3 separate regions of the Homo sapiens genome follow, and all the other regions are linked to region 2. Evidence: fine-mapped expression QTL. A gene starts in region 2. Each other region holds a variant in brackets. All regions are shown on one strand. Distances are between the middles of the regions. Region 1 overlaps RNF157 (ring finger protein 157). Region 2 holds the start of RNF157 (ring finger protein 157). Region 3 overlaps RNF157 (ring finger protein 157).

The links.
Region 1: its variant is fine-mapped to the expression of RNF157 in whole blood (TOPMed, PIP above 0.99). The same link has a PIP of 0.9 or more in blood mononuclear cells.
Region 3: its variant is fine-mapped to the expression of RNF157 in whole blood (INTERVAL, PIP 0.98).

Annotation. Positions count from the first base shown.
Region 1 is chr17:76,190,627-76,196,401 of GRCh38, reverse strand. All of the region lies in intron 2 of RNF157 (ring finger protein 157), which reads left to right. Among named protein-coding and RNA genes, the nearest start is that of RNF157, 47 kb to the left of the region's middle. RefSeq lists an enhancer at 5,131-5,630. The variant T/A (reference allele first, on the strand shown) is at 2,578.
Region 2 is chr17:76,237,325-76,242,981 of GRCh38, reverse strand. It overlaps RNF157 (ring finger protein 157), which reads left to right and starts at 2,489. Exons shown (of 19, transcript NM_052916.3): 1 at 2,489-2,829. The coding sequence starts at 2,742. It overlaps LOC105371896 (a long non-coding RNA gene), which reads left to right. Exons shown (of 6, transcript XR_007065913.1): 6 at 1-2,120. RefSeq lists silencers at 2,315-2,384, 2,405-2,544 and an enhancer at 2,849-3,521.
Region 3 is chr17:76,205,498-76,211,272 of GRCh38, reverse strand. The region is part of intron 2 of RNF157 (ring finger protein 157); the gene reads left to right. Among named protein-coding and RNA genes, the nearest start is that of RNF157, 32 kb to the left of the region's middle. The variant T/C (reference allele first, on the strand shown) is at 2,997.

The sequences.
Region 1 (5,775 bases), 47 kb after region 2:
AGCACCCCCAGAAGCTCCCCTTCTGCTCCTTTCCTGTTGTTACCTCTAGCCTAAGGTAACCGCAATCCTAACTTCTGTCCTGGTTTGAACTTTATATAAGTGGAACTGTGTTCAATTTGCTCTTTAATGTCTGGCTCCTTTCACTCAGCATCTTTGTGACATTTATTTATCTCATGGTAGCTTAGCCCAGGAGGGTCCTTGGCTTTGCTCAGGAAAGAATTTAAGAGCCAGTGGTGGAAGAAAACAGCTTTATTGAGGCGGCAGTGTTACAGCTCTGTGACTGCTCCTGCAGAGCAGGGCTACCCAAAGGCAGTGTGTTGAGAGTAGCGGCTCAGAGCAGGTTTGTAATCATATTTATACCCACTTTTAATTATGTGCAAATTAAGGGACAAATTATAAAGAAATTTCAAGAAGGATAGTACCTTCCGGGTCATTGGGTCATTGCCATGAAAGAGGGTGGTAACTTCCAGGTGTTGCCGTGGCAATAGTAAACTGACATGGCACACACTGACAGGTATGGGAGGTATGGGCTATCTTATGGAAAGCTGCTTCTGCCCAGTCCCTGTTTTAGCTTGTGCTCAATTTAGTCTGATGTGCGAGCCCCACCTCTGGAGTTGAGTCTCACTTCTTGAGTCAAGTCCTACATCCTACCTCAATGGCGTACAGCAACGAGAAGGAACAAACTATTCCTGTGCTGTGTACGGTTCATTTCCATTGCTGCATAGTATTTCATTGTGTGAATACACCATAATTTATCCACTCTATTGTTTGCAGGCATTGAGCTTTTTTGGGGCATTTTGGCTATTACACATAGTGCTGCTATGAACGTTCTATTATTACATGTATTTTGTTGTGTATATGTATGCATACCTGTTAAGGCTATAGCTAGGAGAATTGCTGAGTCATAGAATATGCTGTAGTAGATACCGCTAACCGCTTTTCAAAGTGATTCTACCAATTTTTTTTTCCCACTAGCAGTGTTTAGAATGTCCAGCACCTAGTATTTTCCATCTTTTTAATCTTAGCCATTGTGGTAGGTTTGTAGAATTTATTTTCATTTTCCCGATAACCAATGAAGTTGGAGAGACAGGTGATCTCCTGGTTACGTGGTGTCTGGAAAAAGATCTAGGGGTCTAAATGCTTTTCACACCAACCCCAGTCTCCTGTTTCCAGCCTTGCTCTACCCCGCTTGTAGGAGGACCTACACCTCCATTTCCTAAGCCTGTCTGGAGTTCTGTGACATGAATATGTTTCTGCCATTTGGGATTTCGGCCCTTTCTGTTCTCCTGAATCGCTTTCCACTTGTCAGTGTGTGTTTCAGCTTCCAAGTTTTTATTATAATATCCTCTCCCATTCCCTCTGCTCTTGTGTTTTGTTTTGTTTTTTTGAGACAGAGTCTCGCTCTGTCACCCAGGCTGGAGTGCAGTGGTGCTATCTCGGCTCACTGTAAACTCCACCTCCCGGGTTCACGCCATTCTGCTGCCTCAGCCTCCTGAGTAGCTGGGACTACAGGCGCCCGCCACCACGCCTGGCTAATTTTTTGTATTTTTAGTAGAGACGGGGTTTCACCATGTTAGCCAGGATGGTCTCGATCTCCTGACCTCGTGATCTGCCCACCTTGGCCTCCCAAAGTGCTGGGATTACAGGTGTGAGCCACCGTGCCCGGCCTGCTCTTGTGGTTTTATATTTTTCTCTCTCTCTTTTTAAATCTCTTTACTATTGTTTTAGTAGCAATTCAGAAGAAAGCAGAGTTATCTAAACTGGAAGGAAACCTAATCGTGTCTGGTACTGTATATTATACAATCATGGAAGAGGACATAGGCCATTTCTATAGAGACTATTTTAAATGAGTTATTTGTCTTTGGGTTTAAACTATCCACTTCACAGCCCACTAAGAAGCGTCCTGCTTTCGGGGGTCTTTCAGCAGAGCCTGCAGAGTCATCTCAGGCTCTAGTGAATTTACCGCCCTTCCCACCATCAGACTGGCTTCACTATTTCTGATGTATTTGAAAGTCTCCTATGGTGGCTGAGTGCGTGGTGTTCTATGCGAACTGAATGAGGCCTTTGGCTATTTTACTTAAGCATTGTAAAGAGTGTTGTGTCATTCTGGAAAGAGCAAAACGATAGAGATAAGAAATAGATCAATGGTTGCCAGGGACTGGGGTGCATGGAGGAGTTGACTAGAGAGGGCACAAGGGAATGTGGGGGTAATGGAAATGTTCTTTATTTTGTTTGTAATGGTGGTTACACTGTTGTGTGTGTTTGTCAAAATTCACAGAACTGTACACCAAAAAGGCTGAATTTTACTGTATATAAATTATACCTTGATAAACAAACCAACAAAAAAACAGAATGTGCCTTGGAAAGAGGTGATTAATAGAAATGTGATTGCCTTCTCTGTGGCCTGGTTCCCATGTAGTCCAGGGAGTCCCGTTTGTGGACGTGTACCCCAGAGAAGTGGTAGCCGTGTCCCCCAGGGCTGTCTGTGGATGTGGAGGTGGGAGGGGTAGCAGGGCAGCATTGCTCCTGCATCAGCAGCCCTCGGCCAGGCGCTAATCTCAGATCTGAAACTATGGG[T/A]GCGGCAGCCTCACTGCAGGATGCGGGAGAGCCTGCCCAGGAGCTGTGCCTCAGACCTCTGTTTTGTTTTCTCGCTCAGCTCCTGATTGTTTCGGATCAGGCTTCAGAAGTCACGTTTGTTTGTTAGACAGTCAGGGTCACAACAGACAAAAGGAGAACGTGCTTAACTCTCACGTTACCTTAGACAGTGTCTTCCATTTCCCTAGTGATCCTAAACCGAGAATCTCAGAGAGCCTTTCAGTCACTATGGTAGAAACTTGTATGTGTCCGTGGGTGGGGGGTGGTGGGGGTAGCTGTTTCCAAGATGTTAAATTCCAGTAGAATATAGGGCAGATCTACAATAATTCTTCTGGGTCACGACCAAGTGAGATATATCCTAACTGTATTTACTTCAAGTGCTTTGGGATTTGTAGATAAGAGATACTTACCTAATTGCTTGTATTTCATTTGTGCATTATTTTTTCCAAGCATTCAAAATAGCATTACAAGTTCTTTAATGAAGATGTTATCACTAATGCTAATCACTAAGGATCACTAATGATAACATATATTTTTATAGCACTGTATGGTTTTCAAAACATTTTTATTTGATCTTAATGACCCTATGAGATAGACAGAAGCTATAAATCTCATTTTACAGATAAGGACATTGATGCTCAGAGATGTTAAGTTATTTGCCCAAAGTCTTGTGTATGAAGTGAGAGAAGGCTGAGTGCTCTGGCCCACGCCTGTAATCCCAGCATGTTGGGAGGCCGAGGCGGGAGGATCACTTGAGCTCTGGAGTTTGAGACCAGCCTGGGAAACAGCGAGGTCCCGTCTCTACAAAAAGTCAAAAATTAGCTAGGTGTGGTGGCGCGCGGCTGTTACTCACGTGGCTGAAGTGGGAGAATCACTTGAGCCTGAGAGGTTGAGACTGCAGTGATGGCCATCGCAGTCACCCTGTGCAAGAGAGCGGATGCTGTCTCAAAAAAAAAAAAAAAAAAGGAAAGAAAGTGGGAGAGCTGAAACAAGAACCTGTGTCTTCTGGCTGTTGATATCATACTTGTTTTATTAAATCATTTCATCTTCATTTTCCAGTCTTTCATACAACTCACTGGCAGAACCAGAGGGTTTCAGCTGCTAGTCAAGCTTACTCAGTATTACTCCACAAACCCTTAATTTAAAAACACATGGTGGTCTGTGTTTTTCAGTTATTTTGTGAGCATTAATTGTACCAGTCTGCCATTTAGTCTGCGGGGCAAATATTCAAAATCTAAAGAGTCACCATGGGCATATGCTGTACTCTTCCGAAGATCTTGTTGTTCGTGTATTCATTCTACAGACATCTATTTCTGCCTTCTGTATGTGCTGGTCTAATCACTAGGGGTAACACGAAGAGGATTCCTACATGGATTTTGCCCTCAAGTTTATAATTTCATGGAGAAGATCAGACTTGGACATACATAGCTATAATACAGAGCAGGGAGTGAAAAATGAAGTATAAAAATAGTCATGTAAAAGCTTGGAGAAAGGAACTTTATAATGTAAATGTTGCTGACTCGAAAAGTGCCACTAAGTGCTTGAACTTTTGCTTCGTTGTTTGATGCCATGTTTCTTAACAAACCAGAGTACAAAGAACTGCTGTGGTATTCAGTAGTGGAACTAAAGCATCTGTGTTGTAGGAATTTCCTCGAAATTTCTTTGAAACATATTGAAACCAAGTGTGCACACTCTCACCTCTGTTTCCTGTTGTCATTGTGCACCCCATCTGACGGGAAACTATACTTACTGGTTTTGCATTTCAAAGAAAAATCTGGTTAACTTTTTCAGCATTTAAAGAGATGCATAGTGGCCTTAACTGTTACTGAAACTGTTATATAAAAGTCTGTATTGTATTGTCAAAGACTTACGAGTCAAATAGCTTAACAGTTGATTACACGTAAATTTTGTCCCTAAGCAGCACACTTCATTCTCTAAGATGGTCTTTCCCGGCCAATCAAATAAAATAGTAGCCCTGATTATTACAGAAATTAATCAGACATATACTTTATCTTTACATTTTAATATTTTTTTAGACAGGGTCTGCCTCTGTCACCCAGGCTGAAGTGCAGTGGTGCAATTATAGCTCATTGTAGTTTCAACCTCCCAGGCTCAAGCAGTCCTCCCACGTCAGCCTTCCTAGGAGCTGGGACTACAGGCACATACCACTACACCTGGCTAATGTTTTTTTTTTTTTTTTTTTTTTGAGGCGGAGTCTTGCTCTGTCGCCCAGGCTGGAGTGCAGTGGCGTGATCTCAGCTCACTGCAACCTCCACCTCCGGGTTCAAGCAATTCTCTGCCTCAGCCTCCTGAGTAACTGGGATTACAGGTGCCTGCCACCACGCCCAGCTAATTTTTGTATTTTTAGTAGAGACAGGGTTTTGGCCAGGCTGGTCTTAAACTCCTGACCTCATGATCCTCCCGCCTCAGCCTCCCAAAGTGTTGGGATTACAGGTGTGAGCCACCGCGCCCAGCCCTAATTTTTTATTTTTTTGTAGAGACGGTGTCTCACTATGTTGCCCTAACCGATCTTGAACTCCTGGGCTCCAGCGATCCTCCTGCCTCAGCTTCCCAAAGTACTGGGATTATAGGCATAAGCCACCACACCCAGCCCACTTTATCTATAGAAGGCAGCACTGAACTTTAGGGTAAATGTTGGTATAATTATAGAATAGAATGTAGTCCTTAGCCATATTTTCTACTTATTAAAAACTTAAATGCTGGTAACACAAGAGGTTTATGTCCTCTGCTAATCCATATCGTAACTTTTTTTTTTTTCTTTTTGTAGAAACAGTCCCACTATGTTGCCCAGGCTGGTCTTGAACTCCTGGCCTCCCAAAGTGCCGGGACTACAGGTGTGAGCCACTGCATTCAGCCGTGTAAACTTTTTTTTTTTTTTGAGACAGAGTCTCGCCCTGTCGCCCAGGCTGGAGTGCAGTGGCACGATCTCGGCTCACTGCAAGCTCCGCCTCCCGGGTTCGTGCCATTCTTCTGTCTCAGCCTCTGGAGTAGCTGGGACTACAGGGCGCCTGCCACCATGCCCGGCTAATTTTTTGTGTTTTTAGTAGAGACGGGGTTTCATCGTGGTCTCGATCTCCTGACCTCGTGATCCACCCGTCTCGGCCTCCCAAAGTGCTGGGATTACAGGCGTGAGCCATCACGCCCGGCCGTAAACTATTT
Region 2 (5,657 bases):
GCAGTGAGCCGAGATCACACCATTGCACTCCAACCTAGGCAGCAGAGTGAGGCTCTGTCTCAAAAACAAAACAAAACAAAAGAGTCTTGATTCACTTATTGCATCTTTGCAATAACCATTGGAGACTGGGCTATTTTCAGAGGAGGAAACGGAGACCGTTTCTAAGGGCTTAAGTCAAAGTTACATAGCTGCTTAGGGGTTTGATTTGTCCAACTCAAAGTCTAGTGCTCTTTCTGTGCCTCATTCTCTTCGACTGTAAAATCGGGGTGTAAATAGCATGTATTTGATAGGGTTGTTGGGAGGGTTGAATGCTTTAATACGTGTGAAGTGTTTAAAACAGCCTGGCACATAGAGTGTTCCATAAATATCCACTAATTTTATTGTGCTATGCCTTGTTTTTCTTTACTATTCTAAGCATTGGACTCATGACTCCTTCGTGGGAGGAGGAACCAACTTCTAGGCTTGGGGAGTATTATTCAAGATGGAGAAGCTGGCTTCCCAGGGTCAGGCCAAGGTGGGACCAGAAGAGACACCCCATAAGCAACAGGACTGGGCTGCTTGACTAAGCCACATCCCTGCCTGGCCCTGGCTAAGCAGAAGAAACTCTCAGACATGGATAAACCCACAAAGGGAAGGGATGTCCCGTTTACAAAATGCCGAGGGCAGGAAGAACCAAGGCTTCTGAACAGAGCCGAGGAGCATAAGGCAACATTTTACTCTGTGATGTGTCGAAGGCCTTGTGTTTTGAGGTGGTTCTAGATTCTTATTTGCATTTTACCTTTACCCAGCAGTTACAAGGTAGGGCCTGTGTGTGCTGAAAGGAGTATGGAGGAGGACACCAGTTCCCTCCCACAGGGATGACTGAAAGCCCTGGAGTAGTTAGGACCAGGGACTCTGCCAGAGAGCTCTGGTGCTTGGGAGAAGCTGCCGGGGCAGGGACTTGCCCTGTAACCCAAGCCTTCGTTAGCAGCAGCCAATATAAATGACAGGGATGTGTTCCCACCATCCTGAGGACCCTGGAGGAAACCAAGGCACTTAGCATCAGGTCTGTTGGCTGCTGCTGAAAAGACGGCAATGAAAAATACGAAATGTGCCGGGCGCGGTGGCTCACGCCTGTAATCCCAGCGCTTTGGGGGGCGGAGGTCAGGAATTGGAGACCAGTCTGGCCAGCATGGTGAAACCCCATCTCTACTAAAAGTAGAAAAATTAGCCGGGTGTGGTGGCACATGCCCGTAGTCTCAGCTACTCGGGAGGCTGAGGCAGGAGAATCCCTTGAACCCAGGAGGCGGAGGTTGCAGTGAGCTGAGATCACGCCACTGCACTCCAGCCTGGGCGACAGAGGGAGACTCCGTCTCAAAACACAGAAAAACAAAAACAAAATATAACCAGGAAAGACCTAGACTCCGTAAAATAGCTTTACAAACCTAATCAAGGGAACCAGACACCCCAAACTGTACTTCGAACACTGTTGAAAAGTTGTGAAAGTCATGTTCTAGCAGTTGAAATGTTTGCTGATCAGTCCACTCTCTCAGGAAAAAAAACACCAGACCCACAAAGAAAATAGAAGGTTTAAAACACAAATGTCTGTAATTAAGCAATGGAATGACGTCTTCCGCCGGCCCAAGCTTCCCACTGTTGTGTGTGTTTTTATCAACAGGAGCTCCCGGTTCTGCCTGGCCCGGTTCGCTTTCGCCTGCGTTGACTCTCTTGGCACTCAGGCCTTTCCAAAGTTTCCGGGGTCCCGTTTCCACGATACAGACAGAGGCTGGATGTCTTGATCTTATCCTCAGTCGATGTTCTCCTAACTTTAGGGCTACAAGGAGCCTTAAACAGCATGTATAGAGTTGGGAGCGCTTTGAATAGACGCACGTGAGAGGGAGGCGGCATCTTCCTAGCCGGTCACCAGCATTAACACGGGGCAGGAGACATGCGAATGCACCGTGGGACCCCTCTCCCTACCCCCCTGCATGAGATTTCCGAAGACCTCCGCCGGCCGACGCTGAGGGGCGGGGTTGGGAAGGCTTCCTCCAGGCGCGGGAGCAGCGGAGCGGGGACCGCCCGCTTTGGGACGCCCAGGACAATGGCGAGCGAGCTCCCGGCCAGTCCTCGCGGACCGCGGGAGGGGGCGGCTCCCTGCGCGGTAATCCGAGCCGGGATAAACAGGCGCGGAGGGGCGACGCGTCCCGGCCGGGTGCAGCGCTCGTCTCCTGGGGTCCCAGCTCCGGCCGGTCCCGCCCCGCCCCGCCGCGGGCACCCGGCCGCGCCCCCGTCCCCGTCGCGAGTCCCCGCCCACGCCCACGCCCCCGCCGCGAGGCCCTGGGCCGCGTCCACGCGCGCCGAGTCCAGCCGCGGCTCCCCGCGCGAGGCACGCGCCGCCGGCTCCTGCTGCAGTCCCGCGCTCATTGGCTGCTCCGGCGCGGGCGCTCCCGCCCCGCCTCGCCATTGGCTGGGGCCGCCGCGGTCCCCGCGCGGAGCGGCCGCTGACATCACGCGGCCTGAGGCGGCGGCGGCGCCCCCGGCCCAGACCCGCAGCCCCCTTGGCAGAGGCGCCGCCGCGGTGCCCGGCGGAGGATGGTGCGCGGCGCGCCGGGGGCTCCCCGCCGCCAGAGCCGCAGCGCCGCAGCGGAGCCGGCCGCGGCGGGCAGTCGGCCCCCGCACCGGGCGCGGGGCGGGCGGCCGCGGTGAAGCGCGGAGGGCGGCGCGGGCACCGGGGCCGGGCCGGGGCTGCAGCCGCAGCGGCCATGGGGGCCCTGACGAGCCGGCAGCACGCGGGCGTGGAGGAGGTGGACATCCCGTCTAATTCCGTGTACCGCTACCCGCCCAAGTCCGGTGAGGGCGGGCGGGCGCCGCAGCCGCGAGGAGGGAGAGGGGCAGGGGCAGGGGTCTGGGTCGGGACGGCCTGAGGGGGCCCCGCGGGTCTTCGGGGACTCAGTGGTTGCGGACGCTCCGAAACGGTCTTCGAGCGCGGGAGGTCTTCGAGAAGGCCGAGGTCTCCCCCGCCCCGGGCGAATTAGCCCAAGGGGCGTCCTGCCGGGTCTAGCAGGGTCACCGAGGGCACCGAGCCCCTCCACGGGAGGACGGGAGCGGCCTCCATTGTAATCGGCCCCGTGACGGGGACGCGTGCCCGCAGGGACCGAGGCTCCTGGGGAGCGGGGCTGCGGCGTCGTAGGCGAGGTCGGCGCCCCGCACGGACCCGGCCGGCCCGGCCCAAAGCCTACCTGCCTCGCGGGGTCCGAGGGCCGCGAGGGAGGCGACCTCGGCATCCAAACAGGCACTTGCGCCAGGTGCTATCCCTGCGCTGCCGTCTCCTGGCCTCTGGAAAGGTTAGAATTAGGTTTCTCCTGGAAAAGCTTCCATTGCCTGCTGAAGGATGGAAGCCAAACAGGCATTTGCAGTGCTGGTGCTTTTGCAGAGGCTGTCAGAAGCCGGGGGGTGGGGGGGGTGGTGGTGGTGGAAAGTAACAGAAATGTTTGGGAATCTGAGTATCAGAGTTACTCGGATTGCCCCTTTGCTAGCGTAGTGGCAAGCCTGGGTTTTGGAGTGGGACCAGCTCTGGGACAGGGCAGAGGTATTGGAAACGTATAGAAGTATGTTTGTTATTAGAATCATCCCTTCACTTAAATGTCTCTAGCCTCTGGATTGTGGTATCAGCATTGGAGGTGGAGGAGGATTTTGACAGCAAAGCAGAGAATCACAAGGTAGTTCAGTTATGTGAGCACCGGCCAGTATGAATTGCATGACCTAGCCGGTGTTTACTTTTAATTGCAAGTAGTTTTATTTTAATTAATTACTTTTAATTTTATTCTCAAGACTTCTGAGGATGAATGGCTGCGACATTCTGTCTGCTTAGGACCCGATGGAGATTTTGGTGATTTCGGAATGAGGTGTCAGAATTGGAGCAGAGCCTCGTCTCTTTTTGGTAGAATAGAGACATACTGAGATGAGCTGGTTTCTCAGCAGTGTGTCCAGTGTCTGCCAGGTGAAAGCAGGGGCCAGACGATGAACCTGCCCGCATCCCTGCAGAGTGTCTGCCAGAGCTGTGTTTCTCACTGCTTTTGTACCAAAGAATGAATCCTTGCAAAGATGAATATGGTGAAGAATTGTTTTAGAAAGGTCTAAGATAAAGCTGTGGGTCGTTAGTATTTTAATAAAGCTCTGACTGATTATGACTACATAAAATCAACGCTAACCAAGGCATAGATTTTGTTTTTTAATAGACAAAAATATTCTTAGGGCGGCATGAGGAAAACTTTTTAAAATAGACAAAAATATGCAGCAGTATTTGTGGGCTCTGTTTTTCTTAAACCACATGGCTTTTATTGATCAAAATATGGAGCATACTTTGCTGAGCTTGGAATTTTCAATAGTGTTTGCTGCCTCAGGAAAGTATTCACCGCTCTTTCATATGTGGGACTTAACATAGGTAAACCTCTGGAAGGCTGTTCCCCAAAGCATATTTGTACAAGTATGAATCTTGGGTGATGATAATAAAAAGACAATAGACCAAACCAAAACTTTTGTTAATTAGCACACTCAATAAATAATCCTCTCCTCTCTACCAGTTTTAAAAGTTTAACTGTAAAACTGTAATTCATGTTAAATCAGAAGTTATACATGAGAGAAGTCTTTATAGCAAGTGGACCACATTATTTCTGTTGAAGCTAAAACATAGAAAATAGAATCAGAACATCCTGTCTCTGTCAGCAAACCTTTGTGTATTTGAAACCTTATGTGAGCTTGCATATATGCTCTAGACGGAGGCATCGCCTTTCTTCTGATCTTTGAATTGACCTGGCTCTTTATGGGATTACAGTATTAGTCCTGAAAGGAACCGTTGACAGAGTTTGGCCATGACCACCATGCCTAGCTAATGTTTAATTTTTTTTTTTTTTTTTTGAGTCATCGTCTCTCTCTGTCACGCCCAGGCTGGAATGAAGTGGTGCAATATTGGCTTACTGCAACCTCTGCCTCTAGGGTTCAAGCAATTCTCCCGCCTCAGTCTCCCAAGTAGCTGGGATTACAGGTGTTTGCCACCACACCCGGCTAATTGTTTGTATTTTTAGTGGAGATGGGGTTTCACCATATTGGCCAGGCAAGTCTTGAACTCCTGACCTCTCAGGTGATCCGCCTGCCTCGGCCTCCCAAAGTGCTGGGATTACGGGTGTGAGCTACCACGCCCAGGCAAGTTTTTTGTAGAGACACTCTCTCACTATGTTGCCCAGGCTGGTCTTGAACTCGTGGTCTCAAGCAATCCTCCCGCCTTGGCCTCCCATTCATTTCACTGATAAGAAAATGGAGACCCAGAGAAATGAATTGGTATGGCCAGGGTCTCTCAGCCAGTTAGTGTTCTTCCTACTATACTGTCTGCCTCCACCTCTCAAGGAATTGGGTTTTGAACTTGTACTCAAAAAACAAGACTTAAAACAATCATTCCATGATTATGGAATGAAGGCTATTTCGTGTCATAATTGAAGTCCCTATAGAGGAATCAACCTGGGTTGATTTTGAGAAGTCTCCTTATCCTGAGTACTAACAGTGGAACAAAGCAAGTGGCAGAGTCAGCTTTCTCCAGATGACATACCTTGTAGTTTGAGTGTTAAGTTGAGACCACTATCTGGCTCGCTGGAAAGCGGCTAGACCTGCACTGCCGGTGGAAC
Region 3 (5,775 bases), 32 kb after region 2:
ACGGCACAGGCCTAAGAGCATTCAAGTTGTTGAATTGGCAAACATTTACTGAGCAACTACTGCGTGTCAGGTACTGTGATAGGCGCTGTGGATACAGAGCTGAAATGAGCATGGTTTGTTCTTCCCTGGAACAAATAAGGAAACCAGTCTGGCCCGATTGGAAAGGTGGGCCAGGCACAGTGGCCAACACCTGTAATCCCAGCACTTTGGGAGGCCGAGGTGGACAGATCACCTGAGGTTGGGAGCTCAAGACCAGCCTGGCCAACATGGTGAAACCCTATCTCTATTAAAAACACAAAAATTAGCCCGGGGTGGTGGCACACCCCTATAATCCCAGCTGCTCCAGAGACTGAAGCAGGAGAATCGCTTGAACCCGGGAAGTGGAGGTTGCAGTGAGCTGAGGTTGCCCCAGTGCGCTCCAGCCTAGGGGATAGAATGAGACTCTGTTTCAAAAAAAAGAGAAAGGTAGGTGGCGGCTGTGTTACCTTGATAGGTTTTTTACTCTCTCCTGTAGACCGTGAGGAATATTTAAGACTTGTAGGTAGGTGAGTGACCTGGAGAAATTGCTTTTTTAGGAAGATTGATCTGATGATGGTCTTCCATCTTGACCTTTAACATAAAAATAATTATTTTTTTGGTTTTCATTGTTCTCTTTCTTTCTTTCTTTCTTTTTTTTTTTTTTTTGGACGGAGTCTGGCTCTGTCGCCCAGGCTGGAGTACAGTGGCACGATCTTGGCTCACTGAAAGCTCTGCCTCCCGGGTTCACGCCATTCTCCTGCCTCAGCCTCCTGAGTAGCTGGGACTACAGGCACCCGCCACTACACCCGGCTAATTTTTTGTATTTTTAGTAGAGACGGGGTTTCACTGTGTTAGCCAGGATGGTCTCGATCTGACCTCGTGATCCGCCCACCTTGGCCTCCCAAAGTGCTGGGATTACAGGCATGAGCCACTGCGCCCGGCGGGTTCTCTTCCTTTCTATCTGGAGTGACCCCTCTGCTAATTTTTCGTCCAGTAGTACACTTTTCAAAATACCAAATCTTGTCTGCTTCAAGTTAAGTTATGTCAAGTAATACTTATCAGATGTCTACTCTTTGATTTTGTTACTACTGCCTTGGTAATTAGAGTAGACAGATCTTTCTTTTTTTCTGATAGAGCCAGATAAAAATGTTGCCTCACTCACAGGGAGTCAGCTTGTGCTTTGAAAGTAGCCCTTTCTGCTGGGCACGGTGACTCATGTCTGTAATCCCAGCACTCTGGGAGGCCGAGGCGGGCGGATCACAAGGTCAAGAGATCGAGACCATCCTGACCAATGTGGTGAAACCCCATCTCTACTAAAAATACAAAAATTAGCTGGGCGTGGTGGTGTGAGCCTGTAGTCCCAGCTACTCAGGAGGCTGAGGCAGGAGAATCGCTTGAACCCAGGAGGCGGAGGTTGCAGTAAGCCAAGATCATTCCACTGCACTCCAGCCTGGGCGACAGAGTGAGACTCCGTCTCAAAAAAACAAAAACAAAAATGAAAGTAGCCGTTTCTTCTATTAATAACATGGACTTGATGTTTGCATCTGTTTCTGTCTTTTTCCTTTCATCTGATGTAAAGATAGTTTATATATTTTTAAAAAAATTTTGGCCTTTTCAGTCCATAAAGATGATATAAAAATAAGTAAATCAGGGATGTCCAATCTTTTGGGTTCCCTGGGCCACATTGGAAGAAGAAGAATTGTCACATTGGGCCACACACGGAATACACTAGCAGTAACGATAGCTGATGAGCTAAAAAAGAAAAAAAAAAACGCAAAAAAATCTTACAATGTTTTAAGAAAGTTTACGAGTTTCTGTTGGGCCACATTAAAAGCCATCTACCCCTGGGCCGCAGGTTGGACAAGCTTGAAGTAAATGCTGCTTTAGGTTCAACTTGAAGTTTATGCTGGCTGGCAGACTTTTCCTAAGTTTGCCTATGCCGACCTATGAATGACTGAGCTCTTTCTGAAATGCTAGGTAGCAGCCTTAACCTTAAAGTTGAGGCTTTTTCCCAAAGAAGATCAAGCTGGGCACAGTGGCATGTGCCTGTGGTCCCAGCTACTCAGGAGGCTGAGGCTGAGATGGGAGGATCACCTGAGCCCAGGAGAATTCGAGTCCAGTTTGAGCAATATAGCAAGACCTCCATCTTAATCAATCAATCAATAAATGCCACTTAAAAAAAAAAAGAACATCAACATTGGAGTTTTTGTTGTTGCTTTTATGTAGTAATCATTAAGTATGCTTAATGTTACACATAGCAAATGAATTTTTTTTTTTTTTTGAGGCAGAGTCTCACTCTGTCACCCAAGCTGGAGTGCAGTGGCACGATCTTGGCTTACTGCAGCCACAGTCTCCTAGGCTCAAGTGATTCTCCTGCCTCAGCCTCCTGACTAGCTGGGATTACAGGTGCCTGCCACCACACCTGGCTAATTTTTGTGTTTTTTTAGTAGAGATGGGGTTTCACCATGTTGGACAGGTTGGTCTTGAACTCCTGATCTCAGGTGATCTGCCCATCTCGGCCTCCCAAAGTGCTGGGATTACAGGTGTGAGCCACCGCGCTGGCAAATGTTTTTAAAAGACATAATTTTATATTAGGAAAGCAAATCAGAGTAACTTCATATAGCTGCATAAAAATGTAGTATAGAGAATAAATGCCACATGTTTCTCTTTTTCTTTTCCCCACAGGTTATTTGATAATAATAATGATGGCTAACATTTGAACACCTAGTTTTTGCCAGGGCTGATTGTTCTAAGCTTTTCATCTGTGTTGTCTCATTTTGTCCTCACATCATGATGAAAAAGGTCCTCATTCAACAGGTGAAGAACATGTGGCACAGAGAGTTTAAAGACTGCACAGCCTGTAAGGGATCAGGATTGGAACCTAACAGTCTGGCTCCAGAGCCTGAACCATGCTGCCATTTTTGCTAATTAGGCCAGGTGTACTCAGAAACTCTGCCCACATCCTGTTTGTGAGTCCA[T/C]TGTGTAGATCTTCAAGTGCAATTTCTGAAATATTGGTATCTGAAAGTGGAATGAGGCCAGCACAGTGGCTCATGCCTGTAGTCCCAGCTGCTCAGGAGGCCGAGGCCTATAGATCTCTTGAGCCTAGAAATTGAAAACCAGCCTGGGCAACATAGCGAGACCCTCATCTCTACAAAATATAAAATGATAAAAATTAGCCAGGCGTGGTGGTGCATGCCTCTAGTCCCAGCTACTCAGGAGACTGAGGTGGGAGGATCACTTGAGCCCAGGATGCCAAGGCTTCAGTGAGCTATGATCACTGCAGCCTGGGCAACAGAGCAAGAACCTGTCTCAATAAATAAATAAATAAAAGTAGACGAGTGGCAGTGATATGTTCTCTTGGAGCGCCTCTTCAGAGTTCGTATTCCATGTGTAATTCCATCTGCTGAGCTGACCTCTGGGTTTTGCCATTACTGCACAACATGCTTGTTTAGGGGAAGGCTCAGAGATTGAAGATTGACATGTAGCTTGAGTTCTAAACAGCTGACTTCCACTCTCTAGCAAAAGATCTTGGGTGTCAGCACATGAGTGTTAGGTTACAGGGGAGCAAGAAAGAGAACAACCTTTTAAAGCCATCCAGCAGCATGCGGCAAGAACGACTCCTCTTTGCAGAGAGAGTGAATATGGGCAGTGAAATATGTTAAAATGAATTGTTATATTAAGCTATAAATGCCATAGACTTCCTGGCTTGTGCAATTCCCTGTCATTTCTGAATGAGCAGACTAAAAAGTTTGTCATTTGACTGAGCTGTACTTCGCACCACAGATCTACCACTTAGGATAATCCATCAAAGCCAATTTTTTTTTTTCCCCTAGAGATAGGGACTTGCCCTGTCACCCAGGCTGGAGTGCAGTGGCGTGATCATTGCTCACTGCAGCCTCAAACTCTTGGGCTTAAATGATCTGCCTGCCTCAGTCTCCTGAGTAGCTGGGAATAAAGGTGCATGCTACTACACTGGGCTAATTTTTAAAATTTTTTTTGTAGAGACAGGGTCTTTCTTGCTTTATTGCCCAGGCTGATCTCAATCTCCTAGCTTCAAGCAGTCCTCCTGCCTCAGCCTTCCAAAGTGTTGGGATTGCAGGTGTGAGCCACCAAGCCCGGCCCAAAGCCAAATTTATTATCAAGTCTTAAGGGTCAGATTTAAAGAAACTAGAGTGTGTGTATATACAGAAAGATGGTGGAAGAAAGTTGGAATCTAGATTTCAAGTTTTATTTATATCTTACCATTAAACTCTTTGTAACCTTGGCAAACGTATCACTCAGGTGCTCAGATTACCTGCTTGTAGCATGGAGGTAGTTCTGACTTTAGAATAATGTAATGCTTGGAAGATTCCTTGTAATTGCTGGACAAAAAGCAGCATGCAGCAATGTTAGCTATACTTGCTACCTTTCCAGTTGGTTATTTCTACAGCTACTTGTCATTCTAGGTAGGGTTCTTCACTGTTTTCTTTGTTTGTTTTTTGAGACAAAGGTTCACTCTTGTTGCCCAGGCTGGAGTGAGCCGATTGCAGTGAGCCGAGATCCCAAGATCACGCCATTGCAGTCCAGCCTGGGCAACAAGAGCGAACCACCATGCCCAGGTAATTTTTTGTATTTTTAGTAGAGACAGGGTTTCACTATGTTGTTCCAGGCTGGTCTCGAACTCCTGACCTCAGGCAATCCACCCACCTCGGCCTCCCAAAGTGCTAGGTGGCATGAGCCACCTTGGCCGGCCTCTTCACTGGTTTTTAAATACTGTCTTAAGTAGTAAACTGGGCTTCTGAAGGTCTTTCTGCTCTGGTCCCTTATATAAAGGAACTAAGGTATCTGTGAATCAGTTACAAAATGTTAAATAAAGACCATCCCTTCCCTTCCTAGGTGGCAGAAGAGCTGGTGTTGCTTTTCTGCTCCTTTATTGAGTTAGATCTTGTTTTGTTGGGATAATTACTGCCCAACTCTAAGTTATTAGAGGCTTAGAAATTAGTCAAGTAATGCCTTGACTCCTTCCTGGCCTTTTTTTTCCTTTTGAGACAAGGTCTTGCCCTGTTGCCCAAGCTGAGGTACAGTGGCACAACTACAGCTCACTGCAGCCTCGACTTCCTAGGCTTAAGTGATCCTCCCACCTCAGATTCTCCAGTAGCTGGGACTACAAGCACGCCCCACCATGCCTGGCTTTTTAAAAAAAATTTCTATAGAGAGAATGTCTTACTACATAGCCCAGGCTGGTCTCAAACTCCTTTGCTCAAGTAGTCTTCCTGTCTTGGCCTCTGAGAGTGCTGGGATTATAGCTATGAGCCACTGTGCCCCACCTCTGCCTGCCTTTTGTAGGCAGGAGTTCAAACCGCTCCTCTCATTTTATAAGGAAAGTAGTTGAGTTTTAACCTAGTTCCTAATAGTCTGTATCCTCTCGTGTGTTCTGTAGCTGGGCCGCATTGACACAGTTTCTTCTTCCTCATGCTCCCTGCAATCAGAGCTGCACAGCTGGCATTATTATTTTATTTATTTATTTATTTATTTATTTATTTATTTATTTAGAGATGGAGTCTTGCTCCGTCGCCAGGCTAGAGTGCAGTGGCACGATCTTGGCTCACTGCAACCTCTGCTTCCCAGGTTCAAGCAATTCTTCTGCTTCAGCCTCCCAAGTAGCTGGGACTACAGGCACACACCACCACGCTCAGCTAGTTTTTGTATTTTTAGTAGAGACGGGGTTTCACCATCTTGGCCAGGATGGTCTCAATATCTTGACCTCGTGATCTACCC